2 linked regions of the Homo sapiens genome follow. The protein of the gene in region 2 interacts with the protein of the main gene of each other region in a pairwise test. Each region holds a gene or a part of one and is shown on either strand. Other genes may lie near its edges.

What was found. The genes of interacting proteins can lie anywhere in the genome.
Region 1: the proteins of MALL (region 2) and MCEMP1 interact in binary tests that used the Homo sapiens proteins (3 or more experiments, as listed by UniProt).

What each region holds. Positions count from the first base shown.
Region 1 is NC_000019.10:7,673,064-7,680,511, reverse strand, and holds MCEMP1 (mast cell-expressed membrane protein 1), read right to left. Parts: upstream 3,423-7,448; 5' UTR 3,392-3,422; coding exon 3,337-3,391; intron 2,876-3,336; coding exon 2,786-2,875; intron 2,409-2,785; coding exon 2,271-2,408; intron 2,163-2,270; coding exon 2,112-2,162; intron 2,022-2,111; coding exon 1,908-2,021; intron 1,589-1,907; coding exon 1,529-1,588; intron 1,415-1,528; coding exon 1,398-1,414; 3' UTR 683-1,397; downstream 1-682.
Region 2 is NC_000002.12:110,112,307-110,120,460, forward strand, and holds the start of MALL (MAL-like protein), read right to left. Parts: upstream 3,517-8,154; 5' UTR 3,487-3,516; coding exon 3,382-3,486; intron 1-3,381.

The DNA of each region.
Region 1 (7,448 bases), on a different chromosome or scaffold from region 2:
CAAGTGCATCCATGTGGCCCGCGGTGGCTCCCGCCTGTAACCCCAGCATTTTCGGAGGCGGAGGTGGGAGAATCACTTGAGGCCAGGAGTTTGAGACCAGCCTGGACAACATAGCTAGACTCCCACTTCTTTAAAAAAAATTAGCCAGGTGTGGTGGTGTGAACCTGTAATCCCATCTACTCGGGAGGCGGAGGCAAGAGGATCGCCTGAGCCCAGGAGGTCGAGGCTGCAATGAGTCATGATCGTACCACTGCCCTCCAGCCTGGGTGATAGAGCGAGACCCTGTCTCAAAAAAACAAAAACAAACAACAACAACAACAAATCAAGTGCATGCATGAGCGGTGGACATAGTACCTTAGGGTCATGTACACTCATGGATACATGCTCAATGGCATAGATACACTCACGGGCACAATTACACACGTGGGTACACGCTTAGGGCTTGTATATATCCGTGGTCCCAGGTACACTCAGGGAGATGTTGTATGCTCAGGGGCACCCACTCTGGGACACAGGGAAGACACAGGGAATGAGTTACTCATTCACAGATGCACAGGTACTCACGCAGGGCACTCAGTCTCGCCCACCCTGGTGCCCCGGGGTCATTGTCACGTGCAGACTCTCCCTCTCCCCAGGTCCCAAAACCCCTCCCCTTGCCCCAGTAACAGGTCCCATAGCGACGCTGTTTTCCCTTGACTTTATTTATCTTCATAAGTCACAAAATGTGAGTGCAGAGATAAATGTCTGTGTGCATGTGCCCTGAGCACACAGGGTGGCATAACTCGGCACACTCATAATGACACAGCCGTTCACCCAGCCACAGATAGTGACAGGGCACACATGGCGACACCCACATGTACGGAGATAAATCTCCCCCACCATGACATGGGTAGACAGAAAACACGCCGCAGTATACTCTAGTATGTTTACACAAACAGGGAGACAGGCCCGTGCAATGCATGTCACCAACACCCACACTCAGAGTGACATCTGCTGGAGGTGCTCAGACACAGCCACCCACCGTGACATGCCGAGACTCACATATGTCACATGACACAGGCATGCATGCCACATTCACTGTGACTCTCAGTCCTATTCATTCATCACCTTTCTGGGAGATACACTGAAATGTCCACCCTTTGCAAAATGCACACACACGCGCACGCACACACGCACATACACGAACACACGCGCACACACGCACACACACGCACGCAGGTGTACACACACACGAGCAACTCCGAGACACTCATTCACCATGACTCGAGGTTTTTCTATACGTGGGACGAGGGGCAGGTTCACACTAGGCTGGGGGGGGGGGGTCATTTCCCGTCTTCGTTGGCAGGTGCAGCCCCATCTTCCAAGTTGTGGCTTTGGCTGCCACAATGTCCTCTCATTTATTGAGGTGAGGACTCTGGGGATGGGGAGAGACCCACAGTGAGGCAGATCCCGCCCCTGGGAGAGGAGCTGGGGCTAAATCTGAAGCCCCACCCACCCTCCTCCACCTCCTGTCGGGGCGCCAACTTACGTGGCATTTTCTGCAGCACCTCCAAGATTTTCTGTACCTTTGTGTCAATGTTTTTTATGCCTAGGGGGCGGGGAGGGTTGGGTGGGAACAGATAAGTCAAGCTGCGGTGGAGCCTCAAACAAAGCCCCCACCTTCCTTGGAAGCACCCCCCCTGCCCCACACCCACCCTGGGGTACAGCAGAGCCCATGGATTTGGGGTTCCCAGGAGCCTTTCAATACCCACAGAGCAACCCAGATGGTAACACCCATCGCCCCTCCACAACTTGAGCTTTGGGAGGGTAGGACCCCGGCTTTCTCCTCCCCTGAATCCCCTGCCCCCAGCTCAGCTCCGGGCATTGGTGACAAATAACCCCCATAGAAGGCGAGACTACACAGGCACCTGCTAATGTCGTCTCTAATCTATCAATCTTGCTCCTGACCATGGTGATGCTCTGCTGAACGGAATCCCAGCCTCTCTTCTGTCTCTCTTCGCATGCTTGTACGGAGTTTGAGACTGAGGGCATGAAACAGGGGTGTCTGTGCATCCATCCCTCTCCAGACCCCCACCATGACCCCACGGGTCTCCCTCAGACCCTCCGCTCACCATTCCAAAGCTCCCTTTTAAAGCCCAGCAGCTCCTTGGACATCTCAGCATCTGTTCAGGAGGGGCAGGAAAATCCTTGAAGCACCCAGGGAGAGAGAGAGAGAAGGACAAGGGAGAAAGTCTAGGCCCCCCAGCACCCTCCTCCCAAGAAGTACTCACTCTTCACCATGATGAAGGCTGACAGGATGATGCAGAGGACAAAGGCCAGGGCCAGGAGGATGTACAGGCTCAGGATGGCTCTGTACAACCAGCAGGGGACCTGGGTGGAGTCTGAGGGCGGCCTGCACTGGGCTGGGACTGGAGCAAAGAGGCAGCAAAGTGACCTTGAGGGGCCAGCACCACCACTCAAACCATCCTCACTGTCTCTAACACCATGGACACCTCGCTCCTCTCAAAACCATCAGCAGCTGTGGTCATGCAGCTTGTCATCATCGTCAACAACACTGCCACCACCAGCCACCCTCAGCGATCTAACACCGTCACCATCACAGACCCCCTCTCCAGCATTCCCCAACATTGTCATCATCAACAGACCTCATTAGCACGTCAACAGCTGTCACCTCTTCCTTCCCCATCGCTTCCTCCCTTCCACGCAGCCCCGGGGGCCCTGCAGTTGCCCGCCCACCTGCCCCTTCCCAAGGTGATGGGATGTGAGCAGGTGGGTGTCTGCTCACCTTGGCTCGTGGGTCGTGAATGACCACCCTTTGCATGGTCCTGATTTTTGAAGGCCAAGGTGATATTCTCATAGTCTGGGTCATGGGCACCTGGGAGGGGTTGGAGATCTGCTCAGAGCTCTGTGGTGTGGAGAGTGGATCCGGGATCTTGTTTTACCCAACCCTTTGCACTCAATAAATTGTAGGGGGTGAAAGATAAGGAGTGAGAAGCTAAAATCTGCTTTTTGGTTAAGTGGAGCGGGTGTGTGAGAGTTTGAGTGATCACACCACACACACATCCACACACACATCCACACATCTTGGAGGGGAAGGAGCCCCCGGCCCCCACCTTTGACCCCTTACCTCTCCCATCTGAACTCTCCTTCTTTTTTTATTTTTATTTTTTACAGACAGAGTCTCCCTATGTTGCCCAGGCCAGTCTCCACCTCCAGGGCTCACGCAATCCTCCCGCCTCAGCCTCCCAAAGTGCTAGGATTACAGACATGAGCAAAAGCCCCCGGCCCCCCAATCTCTCCTTCTTAACCCCTCCCTTCCACCTCGAGTTCCCTAACCTTGATTCTTGGCTGAGACCCCCTGTTTCTTGTCCCTGAAGGCTGGTGCTTGCATCTTGACTTCCTGGTGCTTGTAGATTTCCTCCACTTCCATGGTCCCCAGCCCGCAAATTTGTCCATACACGTCCCCGCCCACCGGAAGGTGTGGGCAGATGAGGAAATCTGGAGGTGGGGGGAAGAAAGAGGGGGAGCAGCCTCCTCTTTTCAGGGATCCACGACTCTCGCACCCTGGGGCACCCTCATTCCTGCCCCGATCAAGAGGCTCTTGGGAGCCAAGAGGTCTCAGGAAGGACCAAGAAGAAAAACCTCTAGACCGGGAGATGGAATTCGACACTCGGAAATGTTACAGGAAGCTGTGGTCTCTGTGTGTGTCTGTGTCTACCTGGATGGACCTCACCCTCCTACCTCCTCTCCATTTCAAAAGAGAAGCTGTGACACCTCAGTGTCCCAACTTTTCGCGTAAGAGCAACCAGGCTTGGAGACAGGACCCCTGGGTCCCCCCACACCTTCCTCCCTCCAGCCTCAGCTCCACCCCTCAGCTCCACCCCCAAGAAGTTCTTCTACTTCTACAAGTCCCCGTGGAGGAAAAGCACAGATGTGAGGCAACGGGAACTAACCACTGGAACGCCACACCCACATCTGGGACTGAGGACAGACCCACATCCTTCCCTCCCTCCCCAAATCCCCTGCTTTTATACAACCCTGGAGGAGGCTGGGTGCGGTGGCTCACGCCTGTAATCCCAGCACTCTGGGAGGCTGAGGTGGGTGGATCATCTGAGGTCAGGAGTTTGAAACCAGCCTGGCTAACATGGTGAAACCCCGTCTCTACTAAAAATACAAAAATTAGCTGGGCGTGGTGGCGAGCGCCTGTAATCCTAGCTACTCAGGAGGCTGAGGCAGGAGAATCGCTTAAACCTGGGAGGCGGAGGCTGCAGTGAGCGGAGATCACACCATTGCACTCCAGAATGGGTGACAAGAGGGAAACTCTGTCTCAAAAAAGAACCCTGGAGGAACAGTTTCCTCTGCACCTGGAAACTCCAGGTTTCTCATTCTCATCCATCCATCTGCTTATCTACCCAGATACTCTCTCTCACACATGTACACACACAGGTCTGCACACGGACACACATCACAAACTCATTTGCATACTATTTGCATTGTGACACTCAGAAAAATAGACACAAGCATGCGTTCACATGCCCGCACTCTGTCTAGAAGGTGTCTTAGTTCACTTTGTGTTTATCTGATCTTGAAAACTGGGGTTACAAAAGGCACAAAGTAGCTGGGTATGGTGGCTCGCTCTGTAGTCCCAGCTACCCAGGAGGCTGAGGTAGGAGGATCATTTGAGGCCAGGAGTTTGAGACCAGCGTGAGCAACATAGCAAGACCCTGTCTCTTTAAATGTTTTTTAATAATTTTTTTTTGAGACAGGGTTTCACTCTGTTGCCCAGGCCGGGGTGCAGCAGCGTGATCATGGCTCACTGCAGCTTTGACCTCCCTGGCTCAAGTAATCCTTCGTCCTCGGCTTCCCGAGTAGCTGAAATTACAGGTGGGCACGACTTCACCTGGCTAATTTTTCTCCTTTTTTGAGATGGAGTTTTGTGCTTGTCACCCAGGCTGGAGTGCAATGACGCTATCTCAGCTCACTGCAACCTCCGCATCCCAGGTTCAAGTCATTCTCCTGCCTCAGCCTCCCAAGTAGCTGGGATTACAGGCATGCACCACCACCCCCGGCTAATTTTGTATTTTTAGTAGAGACGGGGTTTCCCCATGTTGGTCAGGCTGGTCTCGAACTCCTGACTTCACGTGATCTACCCGCCTTGGCCTCCCAAAGTGCTGGGATTACAAGCATCAGCCACCGTGGCCCAGTCTAATTTTTCTTATTTTTTGTAGAGATGAGGGTCTCAATATGCCGTCCAGGCTGGTCTTGATCTCCTGGGTTCAACTGATCCTCCAGCCTTGGTCTCCCAAAGTGCTGGGATTACAGGCATACATTTTTATTTTTATTTTTTTCTGGCCAGGTGTGGTGGCTCACGCCTGTAATCACAGCACTTTGGGAGTCTGAGGCGGGCGGATCACCTGAGGTCAGGAGTTAGAGACACCAGCCTGACCAATATGATAAAACCCTGTCTCTACTAAAAATGCAAAAATTAACTGGGCGTGGTGGCAGGCGCCTGTAATCTCAGCCACTCGGGAGGCTGAGACAGGAGAATCACTTGAACCCGGGAGGTGGAGGTTGCAGTGAGCCGAGATCGCGCCATTGCACTCCAGCCTGGGCAACAAGAGCAAAACTCCGTCAAAAAAAAAAAAAAAAAAAGAAAAAAGAAGAAAGAAGAAAGAAGGAAGGAAGGAAGAAGAAAAGAAGAAAAAACAAGTATAAGACTGTCTTATGTGCAGAAAGTGATGATGTTTTGGTTAAAAATATGTGGTTAAATTTCAGACAACTTGAATGTTGAGAAATGAGCGTCGAGATCTGGTGAGGATAAAGTTCTGTTTCCTAAAATATTGCCAAATCCTGTGTCTCCAAGAAAGATCAATTTGATAATGACTTCATGCCAGCTGCTCCATTTGGTCTTAGAAAGAAGTCAGTTACTGAGCTATAGGACCGCCTTCTAATGGAGCAGACGGACCAATTGGATGTGGGCTCTGCCTTGATGGACAGGCACAGGGGGTGGAGCCACAGCGTTGCACATTTCCCGGGCTTGGGTGGGGCTGAGACGCGGCTCCAGGCTCTGGACTTCCTTTGAGAAAAAGGTCACGCTAAACCAGAGGCCCACAAGCAATCATGTCATGTGGGAAACATCTGCAAAGCTGCCTGACCAGCACCCGTCCCTTTCATAGGGTAACATTCTCAATTTTCTTTTAAGAAAGAAAATGTGTGCTAGATCCAGCAAACCATAAGCTAGGGATTGGTTTACAGTGGACAAATGATCCAGACCCAGCCAACCAGAGTCTAAGATTGGGCAGAGAGGCGGGCATTTGAGCAAGATCCAGCCAATGAAACGCTGGTCTGGGATTTTTATTGGTTTAACCACGGGGGAAAAAGCATTCTCTTTTTTTTCCAGCCCTCACTAGGGCTGCCACAATGGGAGGATGTAATGGGAGCTGTGACAGGGAAGAATTTACTTGAGAGCAAAGGCAGTGCTGAGAAAATCAGACCCGAGAGGAAGTCTGGGTCCTGGAGACATCATTTGAGACCCTGGTTCCAAGCCATACCTGAACCTGTTGTTCTAACCCTGGGCTTGTCAGTTACACAAACAAGAAACTTCCTTTTAGTTTTGCCCAAGCTAGTTTGAAGTGGGGTCTGTTGTACTTGCAAGCAGAAGAATCTTGCCTTGGCTGGTCTCTGTGGCCCACGCCTGTAATCCCAGCACTTTGGAAGGCCGAGGCAGGTGAATCACTTAAGGTCAGGAATTTGAGACCAGCCTGGCCAAAATGGCGAAATCCCCGTGTCTACTAAAAATACAAAAATTAGCCAGGAGTGGTGGTGGGCGCCTGCAATCCCAACTACTCAGGAGGCTGAAGCAGGAGAATCACTTGAACCTGGAGGTGGAGGTTGCAGTGAGCTGAGATCGTGCCACTGCACTCCAGCCTGGACAACAGAGTGAGACTCCATCTCAAAAAGGAAGAAGAAGAAGGAGGAGGAGGAGAAGGATGAGGAGGAGGAAGGAGGGAGGGAGGAGGGAGGAGGGAGGAGGATATCTTGCCTACCACAGGGGATCTAGGCATTAGCTATTGAGGAAATTGAGGCTCTAATAGGGGGTTTGCCTGTCCACATCACCTGGGCAGATATGACCTCCAAGTCTGCACTCTGGGGCAGGAGAATGTCTATGTTGGAATTGAGGAACCTGAAGAGAGCCCTCTTAGGTTTCAGATACAGGACTATTGGATGGGGGTGGAGACAAATAGTTCTGGGGACAATGGAGCATCCCCGCCCCCAACACACACACACAGCAGTAAGGGGCAGGGACACACACAAGGCACTAGACTCACCCTCTCTGGCCCTGGCCATGCTTCTAACTCAGTGGTCCTGCCCTACCCCCATGACCACTGTGGAGTCAGGAGAGAGGGTCTGGGAAGGGAATCCCTGGGCTGGAGTCTGGGTGGGGTCCC
Region 2 (8,154 bases):
TGGGAGAAAATCTTCGCAATCTGTACATCTGACAAAGGTCTAATATTCAGAATCTACAAGGAAGTCAAACAAATCAGTAAGAAAAAAACAAACAATCCCATCAAAAAGTGGGCCAAGGACATGAATAGACAATTCTCAAAAGAAGATATACAAATGGCCAACAAACATGAAAAAATGCTCAACATCACTAATGATCAGGGAAATGGAAATTAAAACCACATTGTGAAACCACCTTACTCCTGCAAGAATGGCCATAATCAAAAAATCAAAAAAAAAATAGATGTTGGTGTGGATGTGGTGAACAGGAAACACTTCTACCCTTCTGGTGGGAATGTAAACTAGTACATCCACTATGGAAAACAGTGTGGAGTTTCCTTAAAGAACTAAAAGTAGAACTACCATTTGATCCAGCAATCACACTACTCAGTATCAATCCAGAGGAAAAGAAGTCATTATTCAAAAAAGATACTTGCACACACATGTTTATAGCAGCACAATTCACAATTGTGAAATTGTGTAACCAACTCAAATGCCCATCAATCAATGGGTAGATAAAGAAACTGTGATATATATATATATGTATATATATAAATATATACATATATATGATGGAATACTATGCAGCCACAAAAAGGAATGAATTAACAGCATTCGCACTGACCTGGATGAGCTCGGAGACTATGATTCTAAGTGAAGTAACTCAGGAATGGAAAACCAAACATCGTATGTTCTCACTGATATGTGGGAGCTAAGCTATAAGGACACAAAGGCATAAGAATGATACAGTGGACTTTGGGGACTTGGGGAGAAGAGTGGGAGAGGAGTGAGGGATAAAAGACTACAAATATGGGCCAGGCACGGTGGCTCACGCCTGTAATCTCAGCACTTTGGGAGGCCGAGGCAGGCGGATCACGAGGTCAGGAGTTAGACCATCCTGGCTAACACAGTGAAACCCCGTCTCTACTAAAAATACAAAAAAAAAATTAGCTGGGCATGGTGGGGGCACCTGTAGTCCCAGCTACTCGGGAGGCTGAGGCAGGAGAATGGCATGAACCCGGGAGGTGGAGCTTGCAGTGAGCCAAGATCGCGCCACTGCACTCCAGCCTGGACGACAGCGAGACTCTGTCTCAAAAAAAAAAAAAAAAAAAAAAAAAGACTACAAATGTAGTGCAGTGTATACATGGATGATGAGTGCACCAAAATCTTACAAATCACCACTAAAGAACTTACTAATGTAACCAAATACCACCTGTACCCCAATAATTTATGGAAAAATAAATTTTTCAAAAGCACAAAAAAAGAAAAAAACCTAATCAGTACTCTTCAGAAGTGTCAAGATAAGGACCCAGATTTTCCCAAATTAAAGGAGATGAAGGAGATACGGCAACTAAGTGCCATGTGGGATCCTGGACCAGAAAAAGGACATTAGTGAGAAAATTAGCAAAACTGGAGTAAGGTTTATAGAGTACTTGATAGCACAGTATCAGTGTTAGTTTCCTGATTTCAAGAGTTGTACCACGGAAGATGCAGGCATTACCAGCAGCTGAGGGAAGAGTACACAGAACTTTCTCTACTATTATTGCAGCTTTACTGTAAATCTCACGTTACTTAACAGTACAAATAAATGAAGAAAATTGGGCCAATGTGAATTTTGATTGTCATTGAGCCCCTCACCCCCCACAACACGTAAGGCCCCAGAGCCCAACACCAGCGTGCACTTTGCTCTTCCAGGAGTTTCACTGGCAGGAGCAGGGCAGGTGCGGCCAACATGACCTCTCATGTTTCTCACCCTGGGTGCTGTCCTGGTTCCAGAAACTCCGTGCCTCTAGCCTCCTTCCAGGACTTCTCCCCTGGCCTCTAGGCCTTTCCCTCTCTTTCCCCCCAGCCTGTAAATGCCTGTTCTTTGAGGTCCAACTCTTGGTGGCAGGCCTGGACCCCTCCTTGGCCTGGAGAGTTCAGATGGTCCCTCCTTGCTGAGGCCACCATCCACTTGTTGGGAGGAAATGCTCATGAGTCTCTTCCCGGCAGACAGGAAACCACCAGGAGGCAGTGCCCTGTCACCAGGGGCTTGCAGGACTGACATGAACCACAGGCTCAATAAAAAGAGGCAGAGTCAACCAGTACCCCAGCCACCCATGCAGCTGCTCCAAGGTGAGGGGCACACCCAGGGCCTGGCACGTAGGACTCATCAGAGCACGGTTATGTCATCAGTCTGGCAGGATGCCCACGCTGTGCTGGGGATGGTAGCCTTGGCAGAAACCTGCCTCTTAGGTGGGGTTTCAGCTGGAGCCACTCAGATCCTAGGCCCACCCTGCCTGATTCTCTTTCTGGTCGCCATCAATGGCTAACCCGTTCGCCAGTTTGCCTAAAAGTGGCTTGAGGGGGCCCAACTTTGCAAGCAGAAGACGAGAATGAGAAGGGCTGAAAAGTAGATGCACTTTCTATCTTTTCCCCCCTGCTCAGGGACAGCACTGCCAAATTCAGGGCAGGTAAGAAAATACCACCCACAAGCTAGATACTTCAGAAGGTGCTGGAAAAAGAAAACACTCCTTTGCCTTGATTGGACCCCAGGCTTGACTGTGCTCCTCCGTGAAGAGGATGTGGTACCAGCCAGTTCCGAGGGAACTTGTGCAGTGCGGAACGCTGCATACGCACAGCTCTGCAGATGGGAGCAGGCAGGATCCCCAGGGATCAGGGCCACGACTCAGTCGTAGGGCGCCCCAGAGAGTAACACAGCGACAGGTTCTCATTTGCAACCAGGGTGCCGCACACGACTGTTTTATGGCAGATGTTGCCATAGCTACCTGGTGTGGGAGACCCCACAAAAGTCAAAGTTCAAAGTCAGCGGACGTGACAATTAAGAAAACACTGGAAGACCTACTCTCAGAGGGAAACACAGTCTCCTCACTTCAAACCAGAAAGGCACAAATAGTTGGACAAAAGAAGCCGCGTAATTAAAATTCATGTGCAACATCTCCCTGGGAAGCCTGGATATTTTAGCGACGTCCCCCCAGGCCTCCACACTCAAGTGGGTTTTGTTTTGGAGGGAGGAACCCCCTTGGCGGCATAAGACGGGGCACCGAGTGGCATCTGCCTCTTGAGTACAGCTGCGCCCCGCTGTGCGCCCGGTGGGAGGCTGGCAGCCACCGCAGCCCCTGTGCTCGCTCCCCGCTCTCGGTCCGGTCTGGGTCTCTCTCGGCGCGGTCCGGTCTGGGTCCGAGGCCGGTCTCCCCCCCCCTCTCTGCAGGTGGCCCCTGTGCTTGCTGCCCCTCTCTCTTCTCGGTCCGGTCTGGGTCTCTCTCTTCTCGGTCCGGTCTGGGTCCGAGGCCGGTCTCCCCCTCCCTCTCTGCAGGTGGCCCGGGTCGGGGGTGCCGCACTCACCAGCTCGGGCAGGAAGAAGGCGAAAGGGATGGTGAGGAACAGCGCGACCCCCGAGGGCACGTCGGACGGGGCGTAGCTGGTGGCGGGCGGGTCGGGCGAGGCCATGCTGTCAGCCCCTGCCGGGTGCTCCGCGGCAGCTCGCCCGCGCGCAGCCTGTCAAATATCACCTCCTGCCCGACACACCCATCGGACGTCGCCTGGGAGGGAAAAAAAAAAAAAACGTTCCAGCCGAGCAGGTCCTTCCACTCGCTGCAGCCAGCAGATCCTCAGTGGGCGGCCCAGCGGCATCGGATGGCTCTGCCTGGCCGGCGGGGGGCACAGCGCTGGTGCAGGAGGGAGCAGAGCGGGAGTCTCCTCCTAGACCTTTCCAGCTAAGGAATCTTTGACCCCCGGAGCATGTTATTCCAGGGGATGCCAGCGACAGCCACTCCCCTGGGCCCAGAGTGTAGGCCCAAGCTGCTTGGCTACGAGGGCTGCGTACTGAGGACCAACAATGAGCCAAGCTATCTGCAGACAGCCCGGGTGCCCACCACGGCCTGCACGTGGCTGTTTTGCCCTTTTCCAAGTGAGGAGACTGAGAATCAGTGAGGTCAAGTCAAGACCACAGAGCTGGTTACTAACAATGCTGGGTCTTGCCCAGCTCCCTCCTTTTCCACTCTTGGGGACAGCTCTCAGTCCCCAGCCTCCCCTGGGAGGAGCAGCCCTCCCTTCCAGCTCATGCCCCTGGGACTTGGTGTTTCCTTCTTTTTCTGGATCCCTTTCCATGGTCCTCCACTCCTCTTTTCCTCATGGGGCAGATGAAGGCCCCCCAGTCTCTGGGAGAGGACCACACCGGCAGGCACCAGAGAAGGGCTGGGCTGGCTGGCTGCTGCCTCTAGTGGACAACCTCCTTCCTTCCCTGGCCTTCCTTCCAGCCAGTGCCTTGCCCCTAACTGGGCTTGAGACCAAGAAGTTTCTTCCTGACTCCTAGGCAAGTCAGGGAGCTGAATGCAGGGCTGTGACCCAGAGGCAAGCAACTCCTTTCACACCAAATACAAGTCCCAAAGGCTGAACCATTTTCCCCTCCACCTTTGAATTGGCGAACCTTCATTTTCCCGACCCGCCCTGAAACAGTCTGCTCAGGATGCTCCAGGTTAGGGTCCCTTCTTCCTGCCCCCTGCTGCTCCCTGGTGTGGAGAGCATGTGGGGAAGATTGTGTGAGGGCTGGAGTAATTAGAAGAGGCCATGTCTTGATCTCATTAGCAGAAACGGTGAATGCCAGGTCCTGCCCTCAGGGCCACAGGTGGGGAGACCAGCCAGCTTGGCCTTTGCCTGGTCTGGGGAGAGCCAAGGGAGAGAGGAGTTTGGACAAATGAAGCTAAGACCAAAGGCATTGCAAAGAAAGGCAATGAACCCCCCAGTGGATCTCAAACCAGACTGATCATCCCTTTTTCCCAGGCTACGGAAACTAGGAAGTAAGGGAGACCCTAATCCCACCTGCCAACCCCAGTCTCACCTACACCACCTTGTTTACAGGATTAATCCAAGCAAAGGAGAGATTTCTCCATGAATCCCACATCTTGCCACCTCTCTTAAAGGTTGCAAATAAGCACTGTGCCACTCTTACAGGCTGTAGGATACCTTTGACTTGCCCATGGACAACATGGCATAGTAGGAAAAGTTTAAGTAAGAAGAAAAACAACCTTCTTAGGCTCATATCTATGAAATGGAGAAAATAATACAACCCATAACCCCTTAGTCTCTTAAGCTGAGAGGCCCTGAGCCATTTCCACCTTCTGAAGCAATTAGTATATTAAGAAATGAAGATATGCCTTGGTCTTCTGGCTAAAGACCAGGGTTTTCATTTTCCTTCTCTGCTGTGCATCTCTTCTGACTGGGTCTATCTTCAGGACCAAAGCAATGTGTGTGTGTGTGTGTGTGTGTGTGTGTGTGTGTGTGAGAGAGAGAGAGAGAGAGAGAGAGAGAGAGAAACACAAATGTGAAAATTATTCCCCCCATGCTTTTAGGATCATGGTTCCTCTGATCAGAGACAAAGGTTCCCCTTTCTCAGAGTTCCAGGTACCTGCCTGGCTGCTACTTCCATTGCCACCACCACTGTCACGAGATTGCACAGGGGCTAAGGAAGGAAAGAATAAACAAACAAACAAACAAAAAACAGAGATTTTCTACACTCTCTCTGACTGTTTGGGGCTCTCTTTCCCATTCCTCAGACCAGAAACATGGATTCTTTTGGAGATGTCTTTGTCTGCATCCTGTGTACAGTTCTGGGTTTCAGGTGGTCTCTGACGCTGGCTGACAGGTACCAGAGGAAAGAAAATGGGAAACTCACCAACAGCTTAGTAGTGTTTTGAATTCTGGTTTCCTTCCCAAATATTCCTGCTCCTTTTTTTTTTTTTCTAGAATCCTCAGTTAGCTTCTCCATGCATTCTGTCCAGGGCTGTTAATTGCATTTCATGAAAGGAAGAGGAGGAGTATCCTTCTCTACTTGACCAGAGCCCAAATAGCAACATCCTGCTTAACTCTGCAAGCACTTTTCACTACCCAAGATTTCCCTGATTGATTAATTTGCCTATTGTTTGTCTCCCTGCCCCTGTCCCTCTCTAGGATGTGGGCTTAAGGAGAGCCAAAACTTTGTTCATGTGGTGAACCACAGCCATGTCCACCATCTTGAATACTGTCTGATACACAAAAGGTACTCAATAAATGTTTTTAAATGATTGAAACAGTCATGAAAACAGTCATAAAGACTTTGGAGACAACTGCTTCTCTCTTTTTTTGATTCCTATTTATTAAACTCTTTTCCCACTAAGAAATTGCTTTATCTATATTTCAGAAACAATTTACTAGTTGCATGAAAAAGAAGAGAGAAGCCAGAAGAAATCCAGAGATACTTGGGGGGAAAGAATAGACAGTTGTATCCATTGGGATTCTTTCAATAACAAAAGTTAGAAAAACCCATTCCAAATGGCTTTAGTGATGAAAGGAACGTATTACTTTAGGAAGTGAGAAGCTAAGAGGTAATAATGGCTTCGGGTGAGACTTCATCCAGTGACTTGAACAATGCCACTCAAGGTGGAGGTGACGTTACCAAGAGAGAAGTATATGGAGGCTGAGCAGCAGAAACACCAGATGTCCACTATAGTAGCCTCCCACTGTAGAAATAGGAGCAGAGCTCTCCCCTTTTCTGCTGCAAGAACACACATGTCCCACTGGCTCTCGCCTGCTAGACACAACTAGATTGCAACTATTATTTCTACAAATCAAGGTCTCTTTAACTCTCAAATGGGGTAGATAGAATGCACACACTGATAGACTCAGGAAGATGCTGTGATTAATGTTCGTAGCCATGAGGCAGAATTGAGTCTGGCTTCTTGTGTCTCTGGAGTTGGGCAAGTACAGAACAGTTGCCCGGAAAGAGGAAGGACTCAATGGGATAATGTCTGGGTCATCCAGAGATTCCTACCTGGAGAAGAGCTCAGAAAGCATGGAGACCTTTTTATTCCCCAAAATGGCCTCTTCGAAAGGACACAGTTCTGCAAAGTTAATCTTTGCTGGCAAAGTCAGATACAAATGAGCAGGTTAAGGTCCAGTCTGTCTTACAGAGTATCAGAAAAGGGCTAAATGACAGGCACACTATCAAAGTCCCAAATGTGAGCTGTATTCCATTAATGAGTTCTGTTTTATATTGCTGCACACAGACCTGCACGCCTCATTCAGTATCAGTCATCACTGAGCAGAACATCCTCGACCTCCATTTTCCTGCCTATGAGACAGTATAACCTATAGACTTTCACTTGCCATTCACTTACTATTTTTCTGAGACAAGGTTTCCCTGTTGCCCAGGCTGGAGTGCAGTGGCATGATCACAGCTCACTGCAGGCTTAACCTCCTGGGCTCAAGTAATCCTCCAACTCAGCCTCCTGAGTAGCTGGAACTACAGACCTGCACCACCATACCCGGCTAATTTTTGTATAGATGGGGTCTCATCATGTTGCCTAGGCTAGTCTCGCATGCCAGGGCTCAAGCACCCTGCCTGCCTTGGCCTCCCAAAGGTGTGAGCAACTGTGCCTGGCCCATTCACTTATCTTTATACCCATCCCTCTTTATCCAAATTGACTTGGTTACTGCATTCAAATATCAGAATTCAGAGAGCAAGTTTGAGTTTTGAGGGATACAGTATTACCAAATCCACGTGTCCTTGAGTTTCAGAGAGTAAATGTGGGAGTTCAAATAGTGAGGGATTCATTTGAAAAGGTATTTGAATCTAACTGGTCCCCAACAACAGACAGTGGGGTTGGGAGAGGGAGAGTGAGGATAGGAAGGAATGCCTGTACACTTACCATTGACTTCATGCCTGCCACGGGGCCACTAACAGCCCCAACCATAGTACTGTTGGAATTAGTTTTTGTGTTTGGCTGATTACTGTCCACCTCATGCATTGTAAGGACAGAGATCTTGCCAGGACTGTTCTCACTGTATCTTCAAAGCTCAGTGCTGTGCCTGGAACATGGCAGGTGCTCAACACTTGTTGAGTAAATGATGAATGGATAATTGTAACACTTAGATGCAAAGTGCCCTAAGTAAGGTTCTTTCTCTGCCTCTTTGTTTTGAGGAAACAGATCACAGCAGCTAGGTGACAGCTGTCTTTGATCACCTCCACACCCCAAGAAAGCCTCCCAACTTAGAATGCTTCACGCAAGAGGAAGCTGAGGCAGTTCACAGCAAAGGATATCCTATAATGCTGTAAATTGACAAAGCCCTCAACTGGCAGAG